Linked DNA regions of Homo sapiens. The protein of the gene in region 1 purifies or fractionates together with the protein of each later gene. This does not show direct contact. Each region holds a gene or a part of one and is shown in the gene's direction. Other genes may lie near its edges. The genes, in order: CALCRL and CRCP.

The links.
Region 2: the proteins of CALCRL (region 1) and CRCP purify together in Homo sapiens (affinity purification with western blotting, with the first as the bait; one study listed by BioGRID). This does not show direct contact.

What each region holds. Positions count from the first base shown.
Region 1 is NC_000002.12:187,375,167-187,378,993, reverse strand, and holds part of CALCRL (calcitonin gene-related peptide type 1 receptor precursor), read left to right. Parts: coding exon 1-54; intron 55-3,827. UniProt on the Homo sapiens protein: G protein-coupled receptor which specificity is determined by its interaction with receptor-activity-modifying proteins (RAMPs). Together with RAMP1, form the receptor complex for calcitonin-gene-related peptides CALCA/CGRP1 and CALCB/CGRP2.
Region 2 is NC_000007.14:66,131,591-66,135,417, forward strand, and holds part of CRCP (DNA-directed RNA polymerase III subunit RPC9), read left to right. Parts: intron 1-2,689; coding exon 2,690-2,784; intron 2,785-3,827. UniProt on the Homo sapiens protein: DNA-dependent RNA polymerase catalyzes the transcription of DNA into RNA using the four ribonucleoside triphosphates as substrates.

The sequences.
Region 1 (3,827 bases):
CGGATTGTCTATTGCATCACTGCTTATCTCGCTTGGCATATTCTTTTATTTCAAGTAAGTAAATTTAAAATATTTTAAGAAAATTACTAGATGTCTTGGGTGAATGCCCCATCATGTGCATATTTACATCATGTCTGACAAAATATACCAATATAGATGATTTATAATGTTTAAAATAAGTTGAAATAAGTTGATCTTAGCTTTGTAAAATATGTAGAGGAGACTGATGAAATATCTTAACCTGAATTTTACAAAATTAGTAGGCATATAAAAGTGAAGACATATAATAAGAAGGGAGTCCAAACTAATATATAAACCTAACTGTATTTGCTTTGGGAACTGTTAAATAGTATAGGCCTTCTTAATTGTGTGTTTAGCTTTTGGACAATTTTAATAACAGAATAAGTGTCCATTTTAGAAACCGGAATTTTGTGCAAATAATAGCAAAGGCATTTAACATATATCATCAAAAATATAATCTAAATACACTTTGTTTAGGGTTTTTCCTCGTTTGGCGGGTCATCATTAAAAAGGTTTAATTGTACTTTCAATTTTACTTGTAATTCACTCCATTTTGAGGAGGAAGAGTCAGCTCCAATTTTTTGAACAAAGCAATCAACAACCAATTTTAAATTTATAGAAAGTTAAATTCTAAGTCATGCATGCATTATTTTATCCCTTCACATGATTTTCATAACTTTGATCATCAGCATATATATAATCATAGAATTCAGCGTGACAAGAGTAAGTAGCTATGTTTCATTGTATCTTCATCGCATTGTAGTCATCTTCTGCTCCTTTTGCTCCTGTGGCTGCCACCGCCACTGCTGCTCCTTCTCTTTCTTCTTTCTTCTTCTCCTTCTCCTTCTTCTTGTTCTTCTTTTTCCTCCTCCTCCTCCTTCTCTTTCTTGTTTCTTCTTCTCCTTCTCCTTCTTCTTGTTCTTCTTTTTCCTCCTCCTCCTCCTCTTCTCTTATTCCTCTTCCTACCCCTCCTTCTTCCTCCAACTTCCTTCTTCTACTAATTTTAAACAAAGAAGATATATATACCTATAATTTTAATACCCTATTAAGCAATTTCTAACATTTTTCTAGTTTTATTTCATATTGTTTCTACAGTTTTAATTATAGTATTTAAAATATTTTAACTATTTTTATAACAGCATTTTATCATTAGCACTTTATATGTTACTGAACAGTTTTTAAACAATCATTTGAGCAGCTAAATAATTTTTCATTTAGTAGGTGTACAAAAGTTGTTATTATCAATTCTCTATTTTCGACCATTAACATTGCTTTCATTTTTTCAATTAAAAAACACTGCAATGGACATTTTTGACTATAACTTTTCCCATAGTTTGTACTATTTTCTCAGGCTACATTCCCAGAGTCTTGGGATTTCTTGGTCAAAGGGTCTATATCTTTTTATGGCTCTTGAAACACATCATCTCAAAAATATTTCAAAATGAACATGTTCAAAACAAATTCATATTATCTACCTCCTCCTAACCCAAGCTGGTTTTCTTCCAGAGTGACCCATCTTTACAAATGACACTACCAGAAATCCAATCACATTGGCCAGAAATTTAAGAGTAATCTGTGATACATTTCTCTCATTTTTCTTCTCTGTCACTCTTTCCTTATAACCTGTGAACTTAACCTTTTGAAACCCTTCTAATCTATTCCATTTCCTGATCACTACTGCCATCACCAGCAGTCTTGTTCTATCTAGCCTCAGTAAATTCACTTTCTCTCTTCATTTAATTCTAACCAAGGCAGCCAGAATAGTAGTTTCAAATATTTAGATCAAATATTGACCTGATTTTGCCATTCTTTGCTTTAAAATTTTTAGATTTTCCATTGTAATTAATATAAAATCAAAATCATTAACTTGCCCTGCCTGTTCTCTTTGCCTCCTCCCTAGTCTAATTAAATGTATTTATCTTTTAGATTTAAATTTTAGCATCACTTCCTCAGTGAAATCTTCCCGAATTACTTACTGTAATATTTCCAGAATTGCAATTAACGATAGTAGACATAGGGTAAAATTTTAATTAACATTTGGAAGACCACTATCTCTGCAAATTAAAAACTAATACAGCTGAAAGTCTTCAGATTAAATGGTCTCTTTTTATTTTGCATGTCATAAGTTGAAATATCCGAGCACATTAAATTTTTGAAGAAGATAAAGTTGCAAAGTATAATAATTACATTTGCCTGTCAAAACCAGTGGCTACAGGGAAGGACAATGGTTTCTAGAATTCTAAGTCATACAGTCCCAAACAAGTTAGAATTTAGTAAAGATAAGTAAAGTCCTGCACCAATTTCCTAAAGTCAAATGCAAAATTATTTATGTTCCTTCATGTGAAAGAGTCTAAGATTTAATGGAAAATGCTTGCTGTGAACTAATTAGATAAGAGTAGGGCTGCCAAGTGAAAACAATGCTGCAAGCCAAATGATACCAACAAATGTAGAGTATTCAATTTTAAATCTCAAATCAGACCACTTATTCTCCTAGTTCACTATATGAGAGCAAAAGCAAGATATCATAAAAATTAGCTTATCAAGTGAAGAAATTGAAGAAAATATCAACTGATCCGGGCATCAAGGTACCACACCAAGAGTGTTAAGCCAGAAAAAGACAAAATATATAAGGCACAATGTATGATTTCAAGAATCCAAATTACTATAATTGAGAATACAGTTGGTATAATAAACAGAGAAAAAAATAGCTCAATTAAAAAAATTTAAAAAAACGAATATAACTAAACAAAATGTAATGAACCTTGCATTTGCCTTCCTGTCACTCAGGAAAGTTGAAGTAGATGGCTTTCCTATACTGGGTTCATAGCTAGACCTGAGGATCTTTAATGCTCTTTCCACACCCAAGAATCTATGAATGAAACAGTACTTGAATAAAGAGGATTAGAATGAAAGAGTTATCTTTTTAATCAAAATATATAATCTCCATATCAGGGAAGTTGGTATCTGTTAAAGTATTTGGCAAGCTTAAAGCAGTCTACACACATAAACTGTATTTCTTATTGATAAAGAATTGGAATAAAATCATGTTCAATATTTTTATATCTGTATTTATGTATGTTTTATTCAAGAACAAATACTGTTCAACTGATATTCACAAGTAATTTTAAATTTTAATTGAAGGGTTAAAATTTAAAACCAGAGAATGTTTATTTCATCTATAGAGAAGTGCTTTTTAAAAATGATATTGTGTATATATTTACAAAATTATTAACTTTAAAGATGTAACCTGTAGGCACATTCCTCATTCCAAAAGAGGCCAGAAATTTGGTTCTCCCAAATACTGTCCTCGTGTTTTACATATAAATAGGCCAATTTTTTAGAAAAATAATATTTTTTAAAATAAAGATTACTATGTGCAATAAATACATGCATTTGTTATTTGCTAAAATGCCCATGCTTTTAAACAAGATGTATAACATGCTACATTGGCAACACTTTGTTAAAGCAAATGAATGTCTTGCCAATATAAGAAATTTGACCTCTACATAAAAGAAAAAATATGTTTTTCAAATAATTACCTTACTTCCACTTGAAGTTTTCACTGAAAGTACAATTACCTGTTTATTCTATATAGTGAACTGAAAGGAAAAAAAAGAATTTTTCAGTGGCAAGTTAGTATAAGAGGTATGCAGTTGAATTCAGGCATAACTCAATTTTTTTTTTTTTTTTTTTTGAGACGGAGTCTCGCTCTGTCGCCCAGGCCGGACTGCGGACTGCAGTGGCGCAATCTCGGCTCACTGCAAGCTCCGCTTCCCGGGTTCACGCCATTCTCCTGCCTCAGCCTC
Region 2 (3,827 bases), on another chromosome or scaffold:
GCTTAAGGCTATTATTTTTCAAGTTTGAGATTCCTTCCAAAATATGTAATTATAATTCCTCCGAAATTTTATCTATATTCTTCCTCAAAAGCCACAAAATCTGTGTAATCATGAGAAAGCATCACATCATTGCAAATCAAAGAAAAAAAAGAAAAATCTTTTTATTTTGAAATCATTTTTCTTTTTTTTTTTTTGAGACGGATTCTCGCTCCTGTTGCCTAGGCTGGAGTGCCATGGCGCAACCTCGGCTCACCTCTGGCTCCCGGGTTCAAGCGATTCTCCTGCCTCAGCCTCCCGAGTAGCTGGGATTACAGGCATGCACCACCTTGCCCGGCTAATTTTGTATTTTTAGTAGAGACAGGGTTTCTCCATGTTGGTCAGGCGGGTATCAAACTCCCGACCTCATGTGATCCGCCCACCTCTGGCTCCCAAAGTGCTGGGATTACAGGCGTGAGCCACCGTGCCCAGCCATTTTTCTCTTACATAAAAGTTGTAGAGACAGTGCTGGGAGTTCTCATGTACCCTTCCCATAGTTTTCTCTGATGTTAATATCTTACATAACCATGGTACAGTGATCAAAACCAAGAAATTAACATTGGTACATACTATTAAGCTAAACTTAAATTTTATTTGAATGCCCTGTTTTCCCATTGCTGTCTTCTGGGTTCCAGGATTCAGTTCAGGATACCATTTTGTATTTAGTTAACATGTCCCCATAATGTCATTCAATCTATATCCTTACTCTTCCTTTGTCTTCCATGACCTTGACACTTCCAAAGTCTCGTCAAGTATTTTGTAGAATGTCTGTTGATTTGTGATTGCCTGATGTTTTATTATGATTACACAAAACCTATGGCTTTTGAGGAAGAGTACCACAGAGGTAATCTCCCCTTCTCGTGTCCTGATTTCTGGGGGTACATGATATTGATGTTTCTTATGGGTGATGTTGTTAACTTTGGTCATTTCGTTAAGATGGTATCTGCCTGGTTTCTCCACTGTAAATCTACTGTTTCTTCATTTCCACATTATGTTAGAAAGGATTTGGCTGGGCGTGGTGGCTCACACTTGTAATCCCAGCACTTTGGGAGGCCGAGGCAGGCGGATCACAAGGTCAGGAGATCGAGACCACGGTGAAACCCCATCTCTACTAAAAAGAAAAAATACAAAAAATTAGCCGGGCGTAGTGGCGGGCGCCTGTAGTCCCAGCTACTCAGAGAGGCTGAGGCAGGAGAATGGCGTGAACCTGGGAGGTGGAGCTTGCAGTGAGCCGAGATTGCGCCACTGCACTCCAGCCTGGGCGACAGAGCAAGACTCTGTCTCAAATAAATAAATAAATAAATAAATAAGATGAAAGGACTTACCAAGTTTAGCCCATATTCAAGGGGAAGCGGGGCGGGGGGATTAAGCTTCACCTCTTGAAGGGAGGGATATCGAAGAATTTGTGGTTGTATGTTAAAACCACCACAGTAATTAAAAAATATTTTGTGGGAGATGCTTTGCGGCTAGGAAAACAGCCTACCCTTTGCTTAAGCTTTTAACCATCAATTTTAGCATTTATTGGTGGGTCTTTCCTGCAGTAGTTATGACTATGGTACAATTGCCTAAGAGTGATTTAAAAATTTTTCTCATTCTTGGCCGGGTGCGGTGTCTCATGCCTATAATCCCAGCACTTTCGGAGGCCGAGGCGGGTGGATCACGAGGTCAGGAGATCGAGACCATCCTGGCTAACACGGTGAAACCTCGTCTCTACTAAAAATACAAAAAGAAATTAGCCGGGCGTGGTGGCAGGCGCCTGTAGTCCCAGCTACTTGGGAGGCTGAAGCAGGAGAATGGTGTGAACCCAGGAGGCGGAGCTTGCAGTGAGCCGAGATCGTGCCGCTGCACTCCAGCCTGCAGTGAGCCGAGATCGTGCCGCTGCACTCCAGCCTGGGTGACAGTGAGACTCCGTCTCAAAAAAAAAAAAAAAAAGAAAAAGTTGTCTCTTCTTACCCGTTTATCTATTCAGTCGTATATATCCATGTAGACTCATGGCAATTTATTTTATTCTTTGGGTTCCCCCTCTTTAAAAAAATTGTTCAAAATATAACACAATTGTCAGATTGAGGGTTTTTTTTTTTTGAGATCAGAAAAGTTTTCTCCTAAAATTTCATTAGTTATTCTTCCTCTTCTAGCTACTGGTTTTCTCTTTCAGAAATTCCAATTACACGAAGATTGGTTCTCCTGAATGCCTTTTTGTTTTATACAGGATTTTTTTTCTTTTTTGTTTTCTTTTTTTTTTTTTTTTTTGAGACAGAGTCTCACTCTGTCACCCAGGCTGGAGTGCCATGGTGTGATCTCGGCTCACTGCAACCTCTGCCTCCCAGGTTCAAGTGTTTCTCCTGCCTCAGCCTCCCTAGTAGCTGGGATTACAGGCGTGCACCTCCACACCCAGCTAATTTTTTGTATTTTTGGTAGAGATGGGGTTTCACCATGGTGGCCAGGCTGGTCTCGAACTCCTGACCTCAGGTGATTTGGCCACCTCGGCCTCCCAAAGTGCTGGGATTACAGGTGTGAGCCACCGTGCCCAGCCTCTACAGGATTTTTACAAACAAAATTTTAGAATTTTAATTACAGTCATTGCCTTTGTTTTTTCTCATTCAGGGTTCTTTGTCTTATGCTTGGCTTTTTTCTTTTTTTTTTTTTTTGCCAGACGTTAAAATACATATCAAAAACACCATGCAGGCACCAGAGTCCTGAAATTGTCAGAGAATTTCTCACAGCATTGAAAAGCCACAAGTTGACCAAGTAAGTAAATCTCTTAAGTAGGAAGAGCGTGACACATGGTGAAATGATAGTTGCTACATTCGTAGCAACCGTGTATTGATATTCGGCTGGGTTTGGATTTAAAGAAGGATTATAGTATTGGAGATGAAACAACTGAAAGTTAGACATAGGGACTAGAGTAAGGAACAAATCTTTTTTTTTTTTTTTTTATAAATGAAGAAAGTTCATTTATCCTAGTGATACTGTATTACTCTGCCTGCTTATTCTGCAAAATTAGCAGAGATTAATTTACATTCTCAAAAAAGACGGGTGAGGGGAAATGGAAATGCTTCATGGAAAAGAAGGCAAATTTAGGTCATAGGTAGAGATCTCAATCAAATGGGCCAAAATACAGTTTATTTATATCTGCTAACTCCCAACTGCTAGCATCTGACCACAGCATAACAAGCTTGGAATCGGGGAACCTGGGCTGTAGTCCAGTTTCTGCCCCTTATAGCACCATGACCTTGGAAAAGGTATTTGACCTCTCTGAGTTTCATTATCCTTACCACTGAATAAGGATCATCTGCTAAACTCACAAGGCTGGGGAAAGGGTGAAGGGTGGTGTCTTCATGGAAACAATATGTGTAGATGTCCTTTTTGGACTCCAGAAGCCATAAATGATGCAACCTTATTTATTAACCATTAATGTGAACAGGGCCAACCATTTCTATGTTATTAACACTGCTTCTTCCCTAATGATTCAATTCAGATAAACCTTACAAAGCACTTCACACCAAGAGCTGAGTATCAGGGCCACTTGGTTCTTACAGACGCAGTGCCTCCAAGCCAAAATTGGTAGAACCAATAGTTCTACTCTTAAAGCAGGACCTCTCTAGCCTCCCATTATCTAGATGAAAATGAGCTTACTAATTTAGAAACACAAGTGAGTATATTCTAGGCTAACCAAAGTAATTCTTCTCTAATTATTGAGAACATTAAATGTCACGAGCTGATCTCAAAATATTAGTAAAATAAGTTAAATTGTTTTGAAAGGAAGGAAATGTGATAATGTAGAAATGGGG